Regions from separate parts of the Homo sapiens genome. Here all the other regions are linked to region 1. Evidence: fine-mapped expression QTL. A gene starts in region 1. Each other region holds a variant in brackets. All regions are shown on one strand. Distances are between the middles of the regions. Region 1 holds the start of NAALAD2 (N-acetylated alpha-linked acidic dipeptidase 2). Region 2 has its middle 22 kb from the start of UBTFL1. Region 3 overlaps NAALAD2 (N-acetylated alpha-linked acidic dipeptidase 2). Region 4 overlaps LOC124902812 (a long non-coding RNA gene).

Evidence for each region. PIP is the estimated chance that this variant, and not a neighbour inherited with it, causes the effect.
Region 2: its variant is fine-mapped to the expression of NAALAD2 in lung (TOPMed, PIP above 0.99).
Region 3: its variant is fine-mapped to the expression of NAALAD2 in lung (TOPMed, PIP above 0.99). The same link has a PIP of 0.9 or more in testis.
Region 4: its variant is fine-mapped to the expression of NAALAD2 in aorta (GTEx, PIP 0.97).

The regions. Positions count from the first base shown.
Region 1 is chr11:90,131,753-90,137,665 of GRCh38, forward strand. It overlaps NAALAD2 (N-acetylated alpha-linked acidic dipeptidase 2), which reads left to right and starts at 2,911. Exons shown (of 19, transcript NM_005467.4): 1 at 2,911-3,088; 2 at 3,807-3,918. The coding sequence starts at 3,007. RefSeq lists an enhancer at 2,815-3,518.
Region 2 is chr11:90,105,463-90,111,375 of GRCh38, forward strand. No RefSeq gene overlaps it. Among named protein-coding and RNA genes, the nearest start is that of UBTFL1, 22 kb to the left of the region's middle. The variant T/A (reference allele first, on the strand shown) is at 2,492.
Region 3 is chr11:90,177,829-90,183,741 of GRCh38, forward strand. NAALAD2 (N-acetylated alpha-linked acidic dipeptidase 2) reads left to right here. Exons shown (of 19, transcript NM_005467.4): 16 at 25-289; 17 at 3,792-3,873; 18 at 5,088-5,180. Among named protein-coding and RNA genes, the nearest start is that of CHORDC1, 42 kb to the right of the region's middle. The variant A/G (reference allele first, on the strand shown) is at 2,733.
Region 4 is chr11:90,228,993-90,234,905 of GRCh38, forward strand. The region is part of intron 1 of LOC124902812 (a long non-coding RNA gene); the gene reads left to right. Among named protein-coding and RNA genes, the nearest start is that of CHORDC1, 8.9 kb to the left of the region's middle. The variant G/T (reference allele first, on the strand shown) is at 2,528.

The DNA of each region.
Region 1 (5,913 bases):
CTATGATGGAGAAGAGGAGGAAAAAATGCTTAGATAAGAGCAATTTAACTTAAATGGAGGAAGTGGTGAGTTTTGTTATGTTAGAGGCTCACTGAATCATGAGCAGGTCAAATGTGTCAAATAGCTTCATTGAGAGACTGGTTTTCAATACTCAAAGTTTTTATATACTATTAGCTTTGATGGAGAAATTGAAAAGGATTGCCCTACGTCAACAGTGTTGCTTTGTTAAGTGTGCTTTGCAAAGTACAAGTATTTGCCAAGATGGTAATAATTAGCAATTACTTTTTGATAGCAGCCTTCTGTTACAAACTTAATTAACATAGAATTTTGAATGCTTGCAGTGTCTATATTGACAAAAGTCCAAAGACTTGTTGAGCCAGCTAACTGGGCTTTTTACAATGGCTTTTCAAGATTGCAGATGCCGCCTACAGAGACGACAGTCATATTTGAGGTAACATTGCTCATTCTTGGAACTCTTTAATCTAATTTTAATTTAGGGAGATTATTCAAACTGGCAAACTGTGTTAAATAATGCATTGATTTATTCTATTACTCAAACTTCAATTAGCAATAAAAAACACAAAATGAGCAAGAAAAAATAAATTTAATAAATAGCTTAGCAACTTTATTCATTAGTTTCTACCTTCTCTTTCTTCAGTAAATCTTTTCCTGGAGATAATTTTGATCTGCCTCTTGAGGGCTATGTAGTCAACAGTGAATGGTCCAATGGGTAGCAAATAGAAAAAGCCAAGAGTCTAAAAATTGACAAATTACACAATCAATACCCAAAATGTTTATATGTACAAAAATAACATTTGATATTGTTTGAGACCTTTGTGTGTCACCTGTTAAACACTGGAGAGTTATTAAAATCCCAGTATTATTTCATAATGTCACACATAAAAATAATTCTGAGTGCTCTTGGAAAATGTTTCTTAAGCCATATTTGAGGGGTTTAGTTACTTCACTGGATATTGAACCTTTTGAATAATTCTATTCTAATTCCCTATATTTGGTGTTGTGTGTATGCATATAAGGGGGAACAAACTCACTTTGTTATGAAAATGTTTTTTGAAAGATGTTTCTCTCTAAAATAAAAAACACTGGAGGAGTCAGTCAAGGAATGTCTAACAGGCTAGTAGCTGAAAAAGCTGAAGTTAGTTGGGACTTAAATTGCATGCAAACATTTAGAAATCAACAGTTCATTAAGGAGGTTTGCTTCAAAGTTAAGTACCAGGTATGCTACAAAAGTTTCAAGAAATAAGTTATTAGGCATACCTATCAACAATTATGTTCAATTGATAGCCATTGAAATACAAGGACAAAAAAAAGTTATGTCCCAGAAAAATAAATTTCACTCTTCCAGTCACTTGTTAGGAGCAAAGGTGCATTACCTAAAGCTATCAGGGCTGCAGACAATGCTGTGAAGTTTATCCTAGATATACTACCATCTTTGAAATCAACATAGCAGTTTTGCTTTGGCTGAAAAAACTACTTTTGGTTAGATACGTGAAGCCAATCATAAATTCCTAAAATTTTTCTCTGAGATGAGATGGTTGGATGAAGGCTATTTACAATGGCCACTATTTTGCAAACCCATCTTTAAAGAGAAATGCTTCATGAATGTAGCATGGTGAGGACAGGGGAATGACAGGGACCATTGCTAATGTAGGGGTCAATGGAAAGCTTCCCCTTCACCCTCTGAAGTTTTGCTGGAAAATCAACTCACAAAAGGCAGACTATTAGAAAAAAAAAAGGCTTACAAATTTATGAATAACATAGCATAAGGGAATCGTAGTAGAATGATTACCCAATAACCAATGAGGTACAGATGATAATATACCCATCTTTTTAGAGGAAAGGAAGATGAGAATGTGTGTATAATTTTAAGAGGGTAGTAAATGAATTTTAGGGAAATTCAATGGGCTTGAAGAATATGCAATGGCCTGGGACAAAGTCTGTTGGCCCTACAGGGCAGACGAGAGTTTGTAACAGAAGGCTGCCAGTTGTATTGACAGACTGCAGTCCTTCTTCCTGAGATATTAGTTCGGTTAATGAAAACTCAGGAAAGAAACTCTTTTTTTTTTTGTTTGTTTGTTTTTGCCTTTAGTAGTTCTGGACTTTAGGCAGATAAGGGAACTTTAGAGAACAGCTTTATTCTGTGCTATGGGAGAGACAAAGGATTGAGAGAGAGGAGCTGGAAGAGAGGGGTATGGTCAGAGAGACCCCCTGGCTTCTTCGGTTTAGCATGTCAAAGCACCATATTTTGGGAAATTGGTGTCTGAGCTTTAGCATTAAGAACAGACTCTCAGTAACTACTGGCAGTGCAAGGTCCTTTCAGTGATTACTTTTACTAATGTGAACCTAAAACATTCCAGTGAGGTAGGTAAAAACCTCAGTTAAATGAGTGGAAACAGAATTACAGAAATGTGGAGTTTTGTTTAAGTAAAGGGGAACAAAAAAACGCAATCCCATCGATTTTGATGCTGACAGTGATTGCGGTATTAGTGATGTTAACAGCTTTAACAGCGGAGCACCCAGGACCAGAAATCATTTCCGAGTCTGACGAGTGGGAAATTACAGCAGAGAATCTGGAAGAAGAATAACCAATAGATCAGGAAAAGCAATACTTAAATTCACTTCTGAGCCGAAACTGGGCATTTTGGGGGATGGGCATGGCAAACAGCAGTAGAGTTCTTTAGGAAAAAATTAGGGACGTTTTCAGCAGCTCCCGCCACCTACTATGTCCGGGTTACTGCGGGATCCACAGAATGGAAGTTGCCCGCCAACAGGAAGAATGTCTCCTCCCTCTGCAGGGCTTCCTTTCCCCCATCGAGGGCCCCTGGGGACCACAGGTCCCCAGCGGGTAGGGCGGAGGCGTGGCCTTGCGAAGGTCAGCGGAGGCCACCCAGAGCTCACAGCCTCCTGCCAGCGCGCTCTCTGTTTCTCTGCAGCCCCGAAGCTCGCGAATGTAGCAGGCGCCCCAAGCTCGGTCCTCAAGAAGCCATGGCGGAATCCAGGGGCCGTCTGTACCTTTGGATGTGCTTGGCTGCTGCGCTGGCATCTTTCCTGATGGGATTTATGGTGGGTAAGTGAACAAAACACTCTACCCCGACTCCGGGGCTCGTGATTCTCTGCAGAGATAAAGGGAGAAATCCTGGAGCTGGAAGGGATTGGGCTGTGCGCTAGCCCTGGCCGGCTGGGCTAGATATGATAAACTCTGCACATTTCAGCAAAACTAGAAACCAGATGGAATGTATTTTGGGCTTGCTAATAGATAAAGTGTGCTTGAAATTCAAATTTATTAAATGTTCACTGAGTTCACTAAAGACAACCTACAGCTGTCACTGTCTGCAGGGATGAAAAAAAATCGTTTTATTTCCAAGCAACATTAGTGAGTCAAAACTTTCAACTAATACGGGCAGCATTAAAAACAAAGCAAAACGAAACAAAGCAAAACAAAACCCTGCTCTATACGTAAATAAATATTTGTGGAATGTTCCCTATGTGTCAGGGACTAGAGATCCAGGGAAGAACAACAAAAGCCATGCCTTCATGCATAACGTGAGAAAATGAAAGAGCTTCTCTTAAATAAAACTCCTTTTAAGCATCTAAAAATTATATTACATATCAGAATTTACAGGTTTTCTGCATTTAATATAAACATTATTTTTTAAAGCTCACCATGATCTACTTGTCAGATAAAGGCTTTTTGGGGGGAAGGACAGAGGGGTGGCTTCTAGTTTTAATAAAGTCAAAGTGATTTTGTGTGTATGTGTGCATGTTTGTGTATTTTTTTTCCTTAGGCTGGTTTATTAAGCCTCTCAAAGAAACGACCACTTCTGTGCGCTATCATCAAAGTATACGGTGGAAACTGGTATCCGAAATGAAAGCTGAAAACATCAAATCATTTCTTCGGTAAGTTTATTTTACGTATTTGATCTTAAAAATCATGTTTAAAATATCACAGTGAGAAGCATATTATACCTGGTTATATGCATGAGGACAGTCTTCTCTGTGTGAAATTACATATTAGTCATCAACTTTTTTTTTTTTTTTAATGTCTCTTTACACCAGTCTTGGGGTGAAAAAGTAGGTCTTTCTTCCCTAACTTTATGTAACAAAAAGTATCTGGTTGGCTTATTGAGAGATGTTTCAACTTCATGTAACTTTGGATCTAACTGAATGTTATTCTTTGTTCATCAGTGCCTGGGTTTTAATCAGCAATTTTCTTAGATACCATATTCTGTCAGGGAAAGTTAGATGATGGTTGACTAAGTGATTTAGTGGAAAAGTGATCAAAGTGTCTGATTCTGTCTGCCAAAAGTTAAACCTTTATCCCATCTTGCAGGTATAAATTTGTTTTTTACAAATAAGACAAAATGAAACCAAAAAGAATCATTGCCATTCCTCCAGCTTCTAACCATGAAAAACAGTGGAAATTGGGGGAGTGATCATAAACTCCTTAAGAACAATGGCCATGGTATTTATTTCTGTATTCAGACTCTTTCAAATGGGTGTTATTTTTTAAAATCAGCTTTAGTGAAGTATAATTTACATAAAATAAACTGCATCCCTATAAAGCCTACAATTTGAGAGTTATGACAGACGTATGCTATGCTGAACAAACCACCTCCTCCATCATGCTACAAAAATATTCCATTATGCCCTTTGCAGTTTATTCCCCATCCCCCTCCATCTCTGTCACTGGGCAATCACTAACCAATTTTATATCACTGGAGATTCATTTGCATTTTCTAGAATCTTATTTAAATGGAATCATATAGTATATGTTCTTTTGTATCTAGCTTCTTTTACTCAGAATAATGATTTTGAGATTCATCTAGATTGTTGCATGCATTAGTAGTTCATTATTTTTATTGCAGACTAGAATTCCATTGTATGGATATATTGCAATGTATAATTGATGGAAATTTGGGTTGATTATAGTTTTTGACTATTGTGAATAAAGCTGCTATGAACAGATGTTTACAAGTCTTTCTGTGGATATGTGGTTTATTTCTCTTGAAATGGTTGAGTTTGATGATAAGCATAAGTTTAACTTTTTAAGAAAATGCCTAAGATAAGTGAAAAGTGGTTGCATCATTTTGCATTTCTACCTCAAAATAAGGAAATCAGTATTCCAAAGAGATATGTGCACTCTGATATTTACCACAGCAATATTCACAATAGCCAAGATACCAAATCAACCTGATGATCAACTTCCATCAACAAATATTATGGTGTATATACAGGATGGATTATTACTCAGCATAAAAAAGAAAGAAATCCTATCATTTGTAGCAAAATGAATGGAACTAAATGTCATTATATTAAGTGAAATAAGCCAGGCACAGAAAGACACATATTGCATGATCTAACTCATATGTGGGAGCTAAAAAAAAATTGATCTCATGGAGACAGAGAATAGAATGATGGTTACCAGAAACTAGAAGGGTAGTGAGGAGGGCAGACAATACTGAGGGGTTGGTTCAATGGGTACAAAAATACAGTTAGATAGAAGGAATAAGATCTAGTATTACATAGCACAATAGGGCAACTATAGTTAACAATAATTTATTGTATATTTCAAAATAACTAGAGTGGATTTGAAATGTTCCAAACTCAAAGAAATGATAAATGTTTGAGGTGATAGATATCCTAACTACTCTGATTTGATCATTACTTATTGTATGCTTGTATCAAGATATCACATATACCCTATAAATGTGTACAAGTAGTAGGTAGCCATAAAATTTAAAAATAAATAATTTTAGAAGTCTATTCACGGCTTTGGCTTATTTTGTATTTAGATATAAGTTGTTTTCCCCCTGTGGAGTTTTTTGTTTGTTGTTGATGTTGTTGTTTTGAGACAGAGTCTCACTCCATCACCCAGGCTGGAGTACAGTGGTG
Region 2 (5,913 bases), 26 kb before region 1:
ATCTAACAAGAGATGCTCATTTTAGAAAACATTTTCTTGTAGATTTGAAAATGTTTAATCTCCATGAACTAGTTGTATATCTGCAAGTTGTGTATCTTTGGGTTAGGCATCTGCCCCCCACCAAAGACAGCCACATCCCAGTCTTCAGATAAGGTGAACATGCTACCTTATATGCTAAAAGGGGCTTTGCAGATGTGATTACCATTAAGGGCATTGAAATGGGGAAATTACCTTGAATTATCTTGGTGAGTCCAATCTAATCTCATAATTCCTTGAGAGCAGAGAATATTTTCTGGATGCAGAGATTCAGACAGATGGCAGTATGAGAAAGATGTAGCCTGCTATTGCTGGCTTTTAAAACAGTGGAAGGGGGCCACAAGCCAAGGAAAGCCAGTGACCTTTAGAAGCTGGGAATGACCCAAAGTTTACAACCAGGAAGAAACCGAGGATCTCAATCCTACAACCACAAGGAACTGAATTCTGCCAACAACCCAGATTCTCTCTTAGAGCCTTCAGAAAGAAATGCAGCCTGCCAACATCTTGATGTTAGTTCAATGAGAGCCATACCAGATTTCTAACCAGAACAACTCTAAGATAATAAGTTTGTGTGTGTGTTTTAAAACAGGCTAACAGCTTACAAAAATGTGTTCTTTTAAGCCACTAAGTTTGTAGTAAATTTTTATAGCAGGAATAGAAAACTGATACAACCCATTCTAACTGGTGTGAGATGGTATCTCATTGTGGTTTTGATTTGCATTTCTCTGATGGCCAGTGATGATGAGCATTTTTTCATGTGTCTTTTGGCTGCATACATGTCTTCTTTTGAGAAGTGTCTGTTCATATCCTTCGCCCACTTGTTAATGGGGTTGTTTGCTTTTTTCTCGTAAATTTGTTTGAGTTCATTTTAGATTCTGGATATTAGCCCTTTGTCAGATGAGTAGATCATTAAAAAGTCAGGAAACAACAGGTGCTGGAGAGGATGTGGAGAAATAGGAACATTTTTACACAACCATTGTGGAAGTCAGTGTGGCAATTCTTCAGGGATCTAGAACTAGAAATACCATTTGACCCAGCCATCCCATTACTGGGTATATACCCAAAGGATTATAAATCATGCTGCTATAAAGACACATGCACACGTATGTTTATTGCGGCACTATTCACAATAGTAAAGACTTGGAACCAACCCAAATGTCCAATAACGATAGACTGGATTAAGAAAATGTGGCATATATACACCATGGAATACTATGCTGCCATAAAAAATGATGAATTCATGTCCTTTGTAGGGACATGGATGAAACTGGAAACCATCATTCTCAGCAAACTATCACAAGGACAAAAAACCAAACACCGCACGTTCTCACTCATAGGTGGGAATTGAACAATGAGAACACATGGACACAGGAAGGGGAACATCACACGCTGGGGCCTGTTGTGGCATGGAGGGAGGAGGGAGGGATAGCATTAGGAGATATACCTAATGTGAAATGATGAGTTACTGGGTGCAGCACACCAACATGGTACATGTATACATATGTAAGAAACCTGCACGTTGTGCACATGTACCCTAAAACTTAAAGTATAATAATAAAAAAAAAGAAAACTGATACAACCCTAGAGAAAGTCTTGTACATATGCCCTATAAACACACAACAGAATTTTTTTAATTTTTTTATTGAGATAAAAATGTATATATATATAATTTACCATCTGTACATTTTTAGAGGCCAGTTTAGTGGTGATAAATACATTTATGTTTGCTTTTCTTCATCTCCTCTTCCCACTCCCCTTGCTGGCCTCTAGCAACCACCAATTTACTTTCTATCTTCATGAGATCCACTTTTTCACCGCCCACATATGAGTGACAACATGCGATATTTGCCTTTCTGTGCTTAGCTCATTCCATTTAACATAATGGCCTATGTTCATTACGTTAAGCGAAATGGCCAGCACCACTTATGTTGCTGCAAATGACAGAATTTCATTCTTCTTTGTGTCTGAGTAGTAGTCCATGATGTATATATATTACTTTTAAAATCTGTTCGTTTGTTGATGACCACTTATGTTGATTCCATATTTTGGCTATTGTGAATAGTGCTGCAATAAACATGGGCATGTAGAGATGTCTTTGATACATTGATTTCCTTTATTTTGGATATATATCCAGTAGTGAAATTGCTGGACCACATGGTAGCTCTAGTTTTACTTTTTTGAGGAACCTCCATACAGTTCTCCATAGTGGCTTTATTAATGTAAATTCCCACCAACAGTGTACTAGTGTTCCCCTTTCTCCACATCTTTGCCAGCATCTGTTATTGCCTGTCTTTTTGATACAAGCCATTTCAACCAACATGAGCTGATATTGCATTGTGGTTTTGATTTGCATTTGCTTGATGATTAGTGATATTGAACATTTTTTCATCTTCCTATTGGCCTTTTGAATGTCTTCTTTTGAGAAGTATCTGTTCAGATCTTTTGCCCATTTTTT[T/A]AAAAAATTGTATCTATTTATATATTTTTAACAATTTTTTTAGAAGCAAGGTCTTGCTGTGTCACCCAAGATAAAGGGCAGTGGCTTAATCATAGCTCACTGTAACCTCAAACTCCTGGGATTAAGAAATCCTCCTACCTCAGCCTCTTCAGTAGCCCATTTTTCAATCAGATTTTTTGATTATTATTGAGTTGTTTGAGCTTTTTATATATTGCAGTTGTTACTCCTTTATCAGATGGATAGTTTGAAAATATTTTGTCCCATTCTGTGGTTGGCACTTCACTTTGTTGATTATTTCCTTTGCTTGAGGCTTTTTAGCTTGATATAATCCCATTGTCTATTTTTGCCTTTGTTGCCTGTGCTTCTGAGGTCTTACGCAAAAAAATCTGCCCGGACCAATGTCCTGGAGCATTTCTCCTATGCTTTCTTTTAGTAACTTCATAGTTTCAGGTCTTAGATTCAAGTCTTTAATCTATTTTTATTCGATTTGATTTTTGTATATGGTAAGAGGGGTTTAATTTTATCCTTCTTCATTTAGTTATTCAGTTTTCCCAGGATTATTTATTGAAAAGACTGTTCTTTGCCCAGTGTATGTTCTTGATGCCTTTGTCAGAGATGAGTTGTTTGTAAATGTGTAGATTTATGTCTGAGATCTCCATTCTGCTCCATTGTCCTGTGTGTCTGTTTTTATGCCAGTAGAAATATATTGGCAATAATTAGTACAGAAAAGCTGAAACAATGAAATGACAAAAGTGAATTATATTGATATAATTCATTATGCTCACTAAATGCAATAGCATGCAGCTAGGAAAAACAATGTAGTGCACACAGTATTAAAATAAAACACAATTCAATATACACAGTGCTCACAGTGGCCATCATTAGAGTGTTGAAGAAGGGGATGTAGTCAGCAAAAGTTGTACAGGTGACTTCAAAAGTAATCATAAGCACTTATGATTACTTTTGGCTTAATTTCTTAAACCAAGACTGGAGACACAAGTGTTCATTGTGTGCTTATTCTATATATATATTATAAATATTTTATAAATATATTGTTTCTATTCAGTATTTAATAAAGTAAATCAATAGAAAAGGTTAAAAAGCAATGCATACATATTTCAAATATTTTTTTGCTCCAAATTATATAAGCATTGCATAGTTATTGCCCTGGGCCAGGTAAGGTGGCTCACACCTGTAATCCTAGCACTTTAGGAGGCTGAGGCAGGAAGAGAGCTTCAGCCCCAGAGGTCAAGGCTGCAGTGAGCCGTAATTGCACTACTGCACTCCAGCCTAGGTGACAGAGCAAGACGCTGTCTCAAGATAAAAATAAAAATAAGTTAATAAATAAATAAATATATGTGTATATATTAACTGATTTTATTAAGTATATATATAGTTAATATATATAACTATACATATATGTAGTTACTGTCTTGGTCTATAGTCAATCTTACAGTGCTTAAGACATTGATACTGAGAACAGTTCTCCTAGGTATATGCTGTGTTTCTGGGGTGACATGATGCTCTCATCAGGCCTCTGTGAGCCTAATTCTATCTTACATTTACCCCACTCTTCAACAACAACTTGGGAAGGTGTCCCTAAATGTTCCTAGGTGAACCCAAACCTGTGGCCCTCAACACGTTTCTAGGTAAAGCAAGCTCCTGACATATCTGTGGATATCCTCTCATTAGAAGAAGGGGGAAGAGACCATCTCAAAGAAATTCATTTAATATAGCTTTTCAGCATTAATTTTATTTTGACAAAGAGACACAAAGTAAATAAAATTTCTAAAAAACTATAAACTTTCAAGCATTTTCACACTAAGTCTAGCCCTGCTCACATGCCAGGGAATTATAAAGGTGATCTGTTTCTCAACCTGACCAAGATGCTATAGTAATTAAAAATAAACTCAATCCCTGGATCTCTACCAAAGGGTCTTTTCATATGGATCAAAGTGTATCTACTCATCACATTCTGGAAAAATTATTTGTCTGGAAATAGACAAATTATCCAAAATATAATAGAAATAACAGCCTCTGGAAAGGGCCAAATAAGACTCTTAATGATACAACAGCTAAATCTAGGTCTGATGCTTATTCTGTGTGGACAACAATAGCAGAGCTAATGGCTGATTTGTGGGAAGTAAACATTATGTTTGCAGAATCGTACACGATTTCAGTAGAAGGGCAAGGAAATTTCAGTTGGGAACAGATTGCTCCATGGTAATGTGATCACTATGTACCCAACAATGGCTCTTTCTTCCTAGCGTCAATGCAGATGTTGTTTTATCCTTAACTGTTATCATTTCTGTTTCTAATCACATAAAAGTGTATCCGTTACATATCTGAAGTAAATTCATACTAGTGGTGTAACATCTCCAGCCATTTAAGTGTAAAAAGAGAAAACGTATGATGTGTTTACTCACTGTTTTATACTCTGTAACGCATGAAGATCCTTTTATTCATTGCCTGTACTTTTATTTTTAAACTTTCTGAAACACTTTATGTTATATCCAGCATAGAACTGAGTTTTCCTTTTTGATTTAATCTGACAATATTTTTTTCCTCTAATAAGAGAGTCAAGCCCACTTACTTTTATTGGTAAATTCTGTTTGGTTATATTTTGGTTACAGCATGTTATGCTATGATCTATATGCACGTATCTTCTTTTGCTGCCTTGTTTGTTTTTATTGATTTTGTTTTGATGTTGTGATATTTGGAAGAGTTAAATTTTTATTCTGATGGCTACCTTATGTAACTTCATAAAATCATCTCTTTCTTTAGACAGTAGCTAATGTCTCTAAACTAAGAACAATGGTATTAACTCTTTCTTGTCTTCCCTATGTGATCTTTCATCTCCCAATTTGATATAATAATATTAACTTTGTTTCCCCTGATGCCATTAAGTATGCCTACATTTCTATAAACAGTATCCTTTGACTCCCAGGCATTACAGACGAGCAGTCAGTAAAATCATTCTGCAGAATACCTTCTTTTTCCTTTTCTTCTATTTTTCTTAGTTGTATCATTTCTATATTGCCAGAGCACCTACAGTTGCATTTCTTTCTGTCAGCTTTATCCAGCATTTGTTTTTGTCTTTTATTTGAAGTTAAATATATTCCTTGCTCACTACGACACTGGGGAGAGGAAGGTTTTTGTTGTCATTGTTGTGCTTGTACAGTTGCTTATTTAAAAACATTGGCAAAAACAAACAAAAAATGTATGTAGATGGAATGGAGATAAGACAGAAAATGAGAGAGATTGATGATGAGTGTGCTTATTCTAGACTGGGAGGGGTGCTGCACTGAGTAGTGTCTCAAGGCTGCAGGAAAGGATGGTTGATTGTGAGCAGGTGGAGTTTCCACTGAAGGAGAGAAGTCCTGCCTTCAACAACCTGTGCAGAACCAGGAACTGGTAATGGT
Region 3 (5,913 bases), 46 kb after region 1:
CTTGCCTCTCCATTTTTTTTTCAGAAAACAGATAAGTACAGCAGCTACCCAGTGTACCACACAATTTATGAGACATTTGAATTGGTAGAGAAATTTTATGACCCCACATTTAAAAAACAACTTTCTGTGGCTCAATTACGAGGAGCACTGGTATATGAGCTTGTGGATTCTAAAATCATTCCTTTTAATATTCAAGACTATGCAGAAGCTTTGAAAAACTATGCAGCAAGTATCTATAATCTATCTAAGAAACATGATCAACAATTGACAGACCATGGAGTATCATTTGGTAAGAAATAGTTGGGCAGATATTTTACAGTCTTTAAGTTAGAGCTTTAAGATATTATCTCCTATGATGATCAATGCATATTGTTTCATCCTAGAATACATATTTGCCTTACTTATTTTGACTTCTACACAAAAACTTAAAACAAACACCTATTAAAGAATCTGATTTAATCTGGCATGTATAGAATGAATCCATTATGGCTGAGTTATTACCACAAACATTGGGATGGTAAACATTTTTCTTGTATTATGGCCTTTAAAAACATTTTTACTGGCTGGGTGCGGTGGCTCACGCCTGTAATCCCAGCACTTTGGGAGGCTGAGGCGGGCAGATGATGAGGTCAGGAGATCGAGACCATTCTGGCTATTATGGTGAAACCGCGTCTCTACTGAAAATACAAAAAACTAGCTGGGCATGGTGGTGGGCGCCTGTAGTCTCAGCTACTCGGGAGGCTGAGGCAGGAGAATGGCGTGAACCTGGGAGGCAGAGCTTGCAGTGAGCTGAGATCGCGCCACTGCACTCCAGCCTGGGCGACAGAGCAAGGCTCCTTCTCAAAAAAAAAAAAAAATTTACTGTTATAGAAACAATATTAGAAAAATGTAACATTATTTGCAAAAGATTGAGAAAGCCACAAATACTATTACATACGTATTTTTAATTATTGTCAACAAAATGATTATTACTGCATATATCTTTTAGTGTTTGTCTATATGAAACATTTTTTCCATGGTTATAAGTATACTTTCCTTTTATTAATGACTGTTTAGTGGTTGCTCTTCTGCATTGTGCATCTCCTATACAGCAAGGATGACTCATAATGCAGTGTATGTAGTAGCATTGAGGATTGAGTTTGGAAGTGGTTTGCCTGGTTCAGATACTAGCTTTACCAGTTCTTCGTTATGTGACCTTGGGAAAGTTACTTAACTTCTCTATGTGTTAGCTTTCATACAATTAAAAGATAAAAAAGAACATATCATGTTTCAAAGATCATTGTGGAGATTCAGTTTGGTAATATATAGAAGCTGTGGTGGGTAGCACTTAGTGCTCATTAAATATTACCTATTACTGTTTTATTACAAACATTGTCTTTTATTATTCTGGGGGCACCTATTTTTAGTATATACCCAAATTATCAAATATGCCCTGAGTTTCTACTGTGTACCAAGTACTATGTTATTACCTGGGAGATATAAATGTGTACAAGGCATGGTCATAGTCCTAAGAAAGCTTAAAGTCTCATGTGGGGAATAAAGCAATATACAGATAATAGGTTACTATGGGGCTATGTAGAGAGTACTATAAAAACACAGAAAATGGGTATGGAATAGTAATGACTTCTGAATATTATTATATAAAGGATTAGTAATCTTTATATAATATTATATACAGGATTAGTAATAATAGCAAATACTATGGTCTAGAAAAAAAATGAAGCAAATAAAATGTGTTTATATCAATACAATTGGAGTATCTCTGCAGTGATGGGGGAAATAAGGAGAGATAAAACCAGAGAAATAAGCAGAGCCTACAGCAAAATGGACATTGGTAGTTCTGTGGCTATTCAGCATCCAGTTGTCTTCCTAAATTCCCTGATTTCCTTTTGGTGAATGATCTTTTATCAGTTTTTATAAGTCAGGGTCCAATTAAGAGACAGAAACCACACAGTTAGAGTGGAAGGGCTCTCTTTAGACAAGGTTAATTCTTCTACCTACTTACCTTCTTAGAGGCCTGGTTTGATCTGTTAATTCCTTTCCCTGTCATACTTTCAAAAATCACCATTACTATTGGTGACTATCCATTAGATTAATTATTCTTATAGCTTTTCTATTTCAAAAACATTTCTTCTGCCTGATGTGTCCCACTTTCTTCACAATCAAAATTCTTCATTTAGTGCCAGGCAGAAACAGTTCCTGAGAAAATGTGTTAGTGTAGGAATGAAGGTATAATTGATGAATGAATGAATGAATGAATGAATGAATACATAATCTACACTCCCTGTCTATAGTTTTTTACCTCTCACTAGCCAATCCACTGTGCTGTCTTATGTCCTTTCTACTCTAGTAAAACTGCTCTTGCAAAAGTCGTCATTGACATGTGTTACTAAATCCCAGGACACGTTTCAGTTATCTATCTTGACTTCTGTCCTGCATTTGAAATTTAAAATTCTGTTTTCAGCATTCTTTCCTCATAGTTTCTATTCTATCTCTTATTACATTCTTTGGTTTGAACTTGGCTTAAAACAACAATTAAAAGTTAAGGAAAATCTAGGACTAAAAGACTAGGACTAAAATCTAGGACTAAAATCTGGGACTAAGAAGGTTTTTAAAAATACTGAATATACTTATACTGAATGTACCACTTACTAGCTAAAGCATTTAGAGCTCAGGATTTCTATTAGGTCAGACCTAATAGAAATTAGGTAATAGAAATAGAAATTCTTTCC[A/G]TTAGGTGTGACCTAATAGAAATCCTGAGCTGTAAGTGCTTTATCTATAAAATGAATATCGTATCTCCTGATTTGCTTGCACCACAGGATTGATGCAAGCAACAAATCAATAATGTATGTTTAAAGTCCTGTGTAGAAAATATGGAAAATAATAAATTGTTGTAATAAAAATATAATATAGTCACCTCTCTATATTGGTGAGTTCTGCATCCATGTATTCAACCAACTGCAAGCCAAAAATATTCAGAAAAAAAAACCCATTAAGTTTCAAAAAAGCAAAACTTGAATTTGAATTTGTTGTGCTCTGAGCACTACATTGAATCCACATGAAGTTATATATAGGCATTGTATTAGGCATTATAAGTAATCTAGAGATGACTTAAAGTATAGGGGAGGATGTGTGTAGGTAACAGGCAAATACTATGCCATTTTATATAAGGGAGTTGCTTCCATGGAATATGGTTATCTGCAGGGGATTCTGGTACCCAGGCCTCACTGATACTGAGGTATGACTGTACTGAGAACCTAATCACTTTCCTCAGAAGCATTGTGAATTAAAGAAGAGTTTGACCAGATCAAATCTGATCCTCTTTCTCAGTATCTGGTTATATCAGTTTGTCACAGGTTGCCTGTTGAACAAGATCTTAAATGCACTATTTGAAAACAAGAATTGGTATTTTTTTTTGCCCTGTAATAATTACAGAATCATATCCTATGCATAGCTGTATCCAGTGTCTAGCATACAGTTGTTGTCCCAATGAATGAATGAATTAATAAAAAAATGAATTCTGGGTTTCTGGTAAACTATGGGTTAAGGAATTATTTGTGTCCTAGATTTTTGAAAGTCATTTCCTTTAAGAAACAATGTTACCATTTTTTGTTTTCAAACAATATTACTTTGTTATATTTTCTACTAATTTTCATGGATCTGCAAGAAGACTCAGTAGAAAAATGGCTTCGACATCTATGTGGTCATATCAATCTGGAATGGGGAGGGTGGGAAAGCGAACCTCTGAAATATGAGCTAATTTCTCTTCTTCTTTTCTATTTTTAAAAAAGACTCCTTATTTTCTGCTGTGAAAAACTTCTCAGAGGCTGCTTCAGATTTTCATAAACGACTTATACAAGTTGATCTTAACAAGTAAGTTTCAAATCCCTTTTTTTTTAAAAAAAAAAAAAAAAGCAATCTGGTTACTAGAATGAACTGTTTCACTCATATTAGCATTAACCTCTAAATCACTACTATTCAAATTATAGTCTGCAAATCAGCAATAGCAGTAGTACCTGAGAACTTGTTAGAAAGGCAAAATATCAGACACCAACCAAGACATGCTGAATTAGAATTTTGCATTTTAACTACCACCCCCACCCCGCCCTTCAATGATTTATACTAACAGTAAAGTTTGGGGAGCACTGCTCTGAATGGTAGACTAAAAACTCATCCCAAAGAGACAAGGGCCAAAGGTACCTGTCATTAGGAGTCTGCATGATGAAAATTCTGACTACAGCTGTAAATTCATAGCTTTATGAGTTTAAGTGCGTTTGTAATATATTTTACTAGTTCTTTGTTCAGTACTCCTGTGTACCAGTTTAGAAATTCTTTTTTCATGGATAATTTTTTTTGCATTTTATTTAATTTCTTGCCACTTTCACATTGAAAATAGTTTCAAAGTACATTCAAAGTAAATACCATGTAACAAGCATAAATTTATCCACAGATGTGTCCATGTCACATTTATTTTTTCAGATGTAATCAGAATAAACTTTGCTACTTCCCATATTGGAAGAAAGCTATTATCAGTAGTTTTAAGGGACCTCATTCTCCTTTGGATTGTAGGGGAGCCCAGGGAACTTACTCAACTCCCCAAAGGGATAGTCTGAGTGTGACAAGGGATTCCCTATCCATTATGTGCAGCTATCTCTTACCCTCCTTACAGGCTTCTGAAACCTTCATTCACTCTTTGTTGTCCAGCCTGTTATCTGCTCCTTTTTTCAGCAGTAGAACCGAATGACTTATCAGGAATAACTTGATAGCTCACTTTGTCTGCCTTTCCAGGAGGCCTGGCTGTCCTCCTAGAAGTATAGAATGTCTTTGAGTCCCTTTTGATTGGTGTGTGATGTAAAAAAATATAACAAACGATTTTCCAATAGGTCTCTCTGCTGACTGTAAATATTAGAAAGATGACTCTGCTGTTTGTGGCTCACCATGTAAAGCATTACTGTGTTAATATTCATTTTGTTAAAAATTGATCAATTTTAGAAATATATTTTCCCAAGCCTTGTTTTTATTTAATATTATTTTTGAAGCATGATTCTGCGGTTTGCGTTATAATTATGTATATGTTCTTCTCGAAGTCCCATTGCAGTGAGAATGATGAATGACCAACTGATGCTCCTGGAAAGAGCATTCATCGATCCTCTTGGTTTACCAGGAAAGCTGTTCTATAGGTAAGGAAACAACAGGCGCCAAATACATCACTGTGACCAAAACCAGCATACCTAAAGTTGGCTTTAAACTAATGCCATTAGATGGGTGAAAGGCAAATATGTACACTCTAGGGAATTTGGGTAAGATTGTACATTTAATAATAGGTATAATACATATTAGAAAAATAAATTTCATATTGTTTATTGCTTTGCTGTGAGGGAAAATGGTAAAGGCTAGTTAAAAAAGAACTCTTTCTAACAAAATCTTCAAACTGTAGAATCTTAAAGGGAATTTTAGAGCTTATCTAGTTCAACCTTCTACATAATCCTTTTTATAGAATCTCAGATAAATAGTTATCCAGTCTCAGAATCTTTTAGTGATGAGAAGCTTACTACTTCATGAGGAGGCTCATTTCACTTTATGAAAGGTCTAATTATTAGAAAGTTTTCTTCATAAAGATTTAACATCTATTTTCCTGTAATATTTTTCTCTTTGAGTTTGTTCTGTTAAAGTCAAATAAAATAAGTTTAGCTCTATTTCCATATAGTATTTTAGGTTTTTGAGATGGTTCTCAACGATGGTTAGATTTCATTTTTCGGCGTTATGATGGTGCAAAGGCAATACACATTAAGTAGAAACCATACTTCAAGTACCCATGCAACCACTCTGGTTTTCATATTCAGTGTAGTATTCAATAAATTACATGAGATATTCAACACTTCATTATAGAATAGGCTTTGCATTAGATAATTT
Region 4 (5,913 bases), 97 kb after region 1:
ATAAGAAAAGATTTAATTTGCTTATGGTTCTGCAAGCTTTACAGGAAGCGTAATTTCTGGTGAGGCTTCAGGAAGTTTTACTCATGGTAGAAGGCAAAGCAGGAGCTTGCACTTCACATGGCAAAAGCAGGGAAAGAGAGAGAGAGTTGGGGAGGGGAGGTTCCACAGACTTTTAAATGACCACCAGATCTCAGAGCAAGAGCTCACCTATCACCAAGGGAATGGCCCAAGCCATTCATGAAGGATGGACTCCCATAATCCAAACACCTCCCACCAGGCCTCACCTTCAAGACTGGGGATTATATTTCAACATGAGATTTGGATGGGGGCGAATATCTAAACTATAACACCATCTGAGGCTGGAAAGGTAGACAGAGGCCCAACAACACAGGCAGCCTGAGAGGCAGCTGTAAGGATGATTAAAAGGCTTTTATCCTTAGGGCAAAGAGGAATAATTGAAAGGAGTTTTCCATTAATGTGATTTTTCCAGAAATCTCAAAATTAACTGAAGGCATGCAATAATCCAAAGAGCCCTTATTCAACAAAAGTGCTAAATATTGGTAAGAACAACAAATTGTGTGACATTTTAATTTCCCTATTTCCATTCTCTTCTTTATACCTAAATGGTAGGTATAAAATCCAGCAGCCTCTCAACAATAGGTATGTAAAGTGGAATTCTAGAAGCTACAAGAGGAGGCAGAATGGCATTGTCTAAGCATTGACCCATCTGACAGCTCCTTGGAAAAGCTCAATTTTTAAGGCTTGTGATCGTTTTGACTTACTGAAAGCTTGTTGATTGGGAAAAATCTTGTTTCTAGGACATTTGCTGAAAACAATCAAAAGTGATTGTTTAACATGGCAGCTGCCTGAGGAGACTATACGAGTTGAGGCCAATAAGAAGCTGGCCAATAAAAATGTAAATGGAAGAGTTTATGAGTGAGATAACACCAGAATCTTTGAACAACACTGACATATTCCTAAGGAATGTGAAGAAAGCCACATCCATGAGTAGGGCTGTGTCCATGTAAAAGAATGATCTGAGAAAGTTCCATCCTCTCATCTCTACTTGAACTTTAGGTCCTTTGAAGCAGGAAGGGAAGACTAATGCAGAATTGTAAACTATCAAAACATTGAGAGCCTGTCAATACATACAAAGAGCCTCTCAACAAATAATATACAGCTTATTCACTCAGGGTATATAAGGAAATCTCTGTCCAATCACGAGCTTAACTACAAAGCTAACTGTACAGAGGACTCAGTGGCCACAAATAACAGGGAATAAAGAGTTTACAGAATTAGTCCAGGAGATAAATAATAACAACAACAACAACAACAATAAATGGCAATCAAAAGAAAGGCTGGGAGGAGATAATCTGATTTCTAGAGTTGTCACATTATATTATATAAAATATCCAGTTTTCAATAAAAAATTATGTCTTGTAAATAAGAAGAATGGCTCATATACAGGAAGAAAAAAAAGCATGCAATATAAACTGTCCCTGAGGTAGATATTGGACGTAATAGGTAAAGACTTTAAATCAATTATTATAAATATGTTCAAAGAAATAGAAGAAACTAATTCTAAAAAACAAAGAGACTGATGTCTCAGCAAATATTACTAATGAAGAAATAAAAAGTAAAAATTCTCAAATTGAAAAGTATAATAACTAAAAATTTACTATAAGGATTCAATAGAAGATTAGTCCTGGTAGAAAAAGAGAATTTGAATATAGGTCAGTTTACATCATCTAGTCTAAGGAACAGGAAAAAAACTGAATAAATAAAGATACATAAAGTCTCAGAGACTAATTGAACAGTATCATGCTTACCAGCATACACATATTAGAGTCACAGAAGAAGAGAATATGGGAAAAGGGGAAGAAACAGTACTTGAAGGTATAATAACTAAAAACTTCTCAAATGTAGTTAAAACATTAATGTACACATCTGAAAAATTTAGGAACCCCCAGTAAGACAAACTCAAAGAGATGAACATATACAAAATAATAAAATTGTCAAAAGCCAAAAATACTGAGAGAATTTTGAAAGCAGTAAGAGAAAAATGGGTCTCCACATATAAGGGATTCTCTGTAAGATTAACACATGATTTCATTTCCAAAACACTGTAGTCCAAACAGAAATAGGATGACACAGTCAAAGTCATAAAAGAATAAGATCATCAACTAGTCTATTTTGCAAAATTATACTTCCAAAACTAAGTATAATATTTATAGATTTCAAGTATTAGTATGTGGGCATCTTGTGAGGGTGAGGCATTATTTAGCCTACCACAATACCAGTATCATAAGGTTCTCCAAAGCAACTGAAAATGGTTTCCATCAGTTTGGTCTTATCCATATCTGTCCTTGACTTAAACTACTTCTGAGTGATATAAATATTTAAAGCCTTTTCCAATATCTGATTTATTTATTTCCTGGTGAATTAATACCCTCTAAACTCCCCAGTTGTAAAATGAAGAATTTAGGAGGTTGTGTTCTCTAGATAGTGAAATGATTAAAAATATTAT[G/T]AACTTCTGAGTTGAAAACAGATTAGACTCTCCAACACTTAATAAGGATGTGGTTTTAGGAAAGGTATTTTACTTTCGATGTCTTATTTGTAAAATGAATTCAATATTGTCTACTTCTTTAGTTTTATTGGTCCATAGATAAAGAAAATTGTGCTACCAGGTAGATCATATCCAGAATCTCACCCACACCTAATTTAGATTATTTAGATGATGAGATTTGGATGAGATCTGAGGATTTGAATTGATGCTATAATGGGTTCAGAAATTTTGAGGACCTTGAGATGGAGCAAACATTTGGAGTAACATTAATCTGGCAGCCAGAGGGCCAGATGTGATGTGTAGAATAAGGTTTACCCAAGAATTTGTATACCTTAATTCCTAGAACTCTGAATATTATGTTACATGGCAAAGGGGATGTAAGGTTGCAGATAGAATTAAGATTGCTAATTAGTAGACATTAAAATAGAGATTTTCCTGGACATCCAAATGGGCTCAATGTAATCTCAAGCTTCCTAAAAAGTAGGAGAGGCTATACAAGAAGAGGTTAGGGTGATGTGATGTGAGAAGGACTCGACTCACTGTTGCTCACTTTGAATATGGAGAAAGCAGTTTACAAGCCAATAATGGTGGGTAGCCTCTAGAAGCTAGAAAGGGAAGGAAACACACTTTCCTCTCTAACTTCCAAAAAGGAACATAGTCCTTTTGACACATTTGTTTTAGCCTAGTGAGACCTGTGTTGGACTTCTGACATACAGAGTTGTAAAATAATACATTTGTCTGTTTTCAAGCCACTATAATTTAGGTAATTTAGTACAGGAGCAAGAGAAAATTAATACCTGTTTGAGTTTCCATGAGGATTAAATTTAATTAATGCATATAATACTGGTTTCCCAGTTACAGGTTAATTAATAGAAATTCATGTTATATTTCTCCTGATAGCTCTTTCCTCTTTTTAGATTTTATTAATGAGGAGAATTGAAATCACATTATTAATATTAAACTAATAGCTTTCATGTTATATATCCCCTTTGGAAATAATTTTTGTAATTTATATTCAGTTTTGTGACCATATCTGCAATATTTCTACTTAGTCATATGTTTAATTTGCTTTAATAACCGCTGTCAACATACCATAATTTACTCATATCAGTTTCTTAACTTTAGAGTGATGTTGTTTCTGAATTCTTTTAGTTCTAAGGTGTCTCTTTTGAATGACAACTTACCTGGACATCAAATTTTGGGTCAAAATCACTTTCTGTCAAAATTCTTCTTTAGGTATAACTGCTATTTTCGGATGTTTGGTATTGCAAAAGAGAAGCTGGAAGCCAGAGTAAATTTTGTTTATAGGTTATCAGTGTTTCCTCTTTGGATACTTGTGGACTTTTTCAAAACTGTCATGTCATATATGTTGCTAGCTTCTGCATTCAGTACTTTTGCAGACTAGGTACCCTGATCAACTGTCCCATGGAAAACAATTTAAAACATGGGATACAATTCTTTAAAACTTTTTATACATTCACCAATGCAAGAACATCAGAAATACTCAGGGGACAAAAACTATGAGAAAGAGCAATCTTTAGCTCCAAAGCTGAAACATTGAGGATGGCTGTCATCTTGAAATGATCTTGTGCTCAAGTTGTCACCAAGAGCAAGAGAAAAGAGAAACATTCCTGGATCTGTCTGAGGTGGAACTGTTGAGAAAATTTGCCCTCCCTTCCTTTATTAAGCTGGGAAAGCAAAGGGCTATATCCCTGCTATAAAAATGAAATATAAACCTACATTGCTCTTTCTCTTTCTTTTCCTTCATCCTCTATAGAAGACTACCAGGAGCATTGCTTGCTTCACATCTCAGGTATAAGTAAAGAAGGAAAAAAGCCAACCTTTACTCAGGTTGGTAGTCAAGATTCACACTCTAGAGATTGTTAAGAATATTTTTAAAACTCTAAAGTAAAAATTTAGTGTGAAGTGCTCTTTTTAAATTGCCTGATAAAAGCAATATACATTCTCTCTACATGCACCTACTTCAAGCTAGGCCTCAAAAGATACCAATAGATAAAGTTGCAGGAAATGTGAGCTCTCAATGAAAAAAAAAAAAAGTATAAAATACCATGAATGAAAGCTAACAAAACAATAGTGGAATTAAACTGCTAAAGGGTTGAAATTTATCAAATACAATAGATTTAAAGAAATAAAAAGGACTGACAACGTAAGTAAGAACAACAAACTTCAAAAATGAAAAAGAAAAAGAATCAGAAACAGCCAGAAATAAAAATATATATAGTTAAAAGTTTATGAATAAGCTTAATAGCTGATAGACCCACCCAAAAGAAGGATTTTTGAACTGGAATATAGAACTGAAAAAAATACATAGAATGCAAAAGAGAGAGAAAAAGAAATTGAAAATACAGAAAAAAGGTAAATACAAGAGGAGATTAAGAAAGTCAGATATTTGTGTAATCAGAGAAGGAACAGGGCAGAGTAAAATAGAGATAGTATGTAAGAAGATAATTGGTAAGAATTTTCCAGAAATGATAGATGAGTAAGTACAGAGTCAGGAATCTCAATGAATCTCAAGCAGAAAGAAAAAAATTACAATATTTTTAAAATTGTAAAGTAGCGAAAGCAAAAGAGACCTTGCAGAAGCTGTAGAGAAAAGACAGAGTATGTAGCAATTGACAATGGAAGCCTGAAAAGAGCAGCATTATACTATCAGTAGCCAAGATAAAAATGTTTTACCGTCTCATTAAACGTTATATACTCAATAATATAATATTCAAAATGAGCCAAAAATGTGTATAAATATATAACACAGATAGAAATACAATAATAATGGGTTATATTAGAACACCCCTTAGCCTTTGACAGATTAAGTAGAATGATCCACTCCAAAAAAAAGAAGCAAGATAGGATCATAGAGAATTTTATTTTGTATTAAAATATAGTAGGTAGTGGCAAGCTATTTTTTCTTCTATTTCAACAACTATAAAAAGAAATACATCATAAGATTATATTTTTAAAGACATTGCATAGGTGTAGAAGCAAAGAAGCTTATATATCAACTAAAATTTTAAAGACAAGAATTCTTCCTAGTTGAATTGTTAATCAGTCTTTCCTCTTTGAGGTCACTGGATTAAGACTGAGCTTGCCATAGATAGAAAAGCTCTACTAAGTTTAGCTAAATGAATAAACAAACAAAGTGAGCTTTCTAAAAACTGCTGCACGGGCTGGCATGACAAACTGAAATCCAGAGAAACCAAAGACATTGTTGACTAAAGAAAGAAAAATAAAGCTTTTAAAGAATTAAAGTTAGTTTTATTCACAAGCCTTACTGAGGACTGTAGATGATTATAGCCTGAAAGGAGTCTTTTGGGGAGATTCTATCAGCC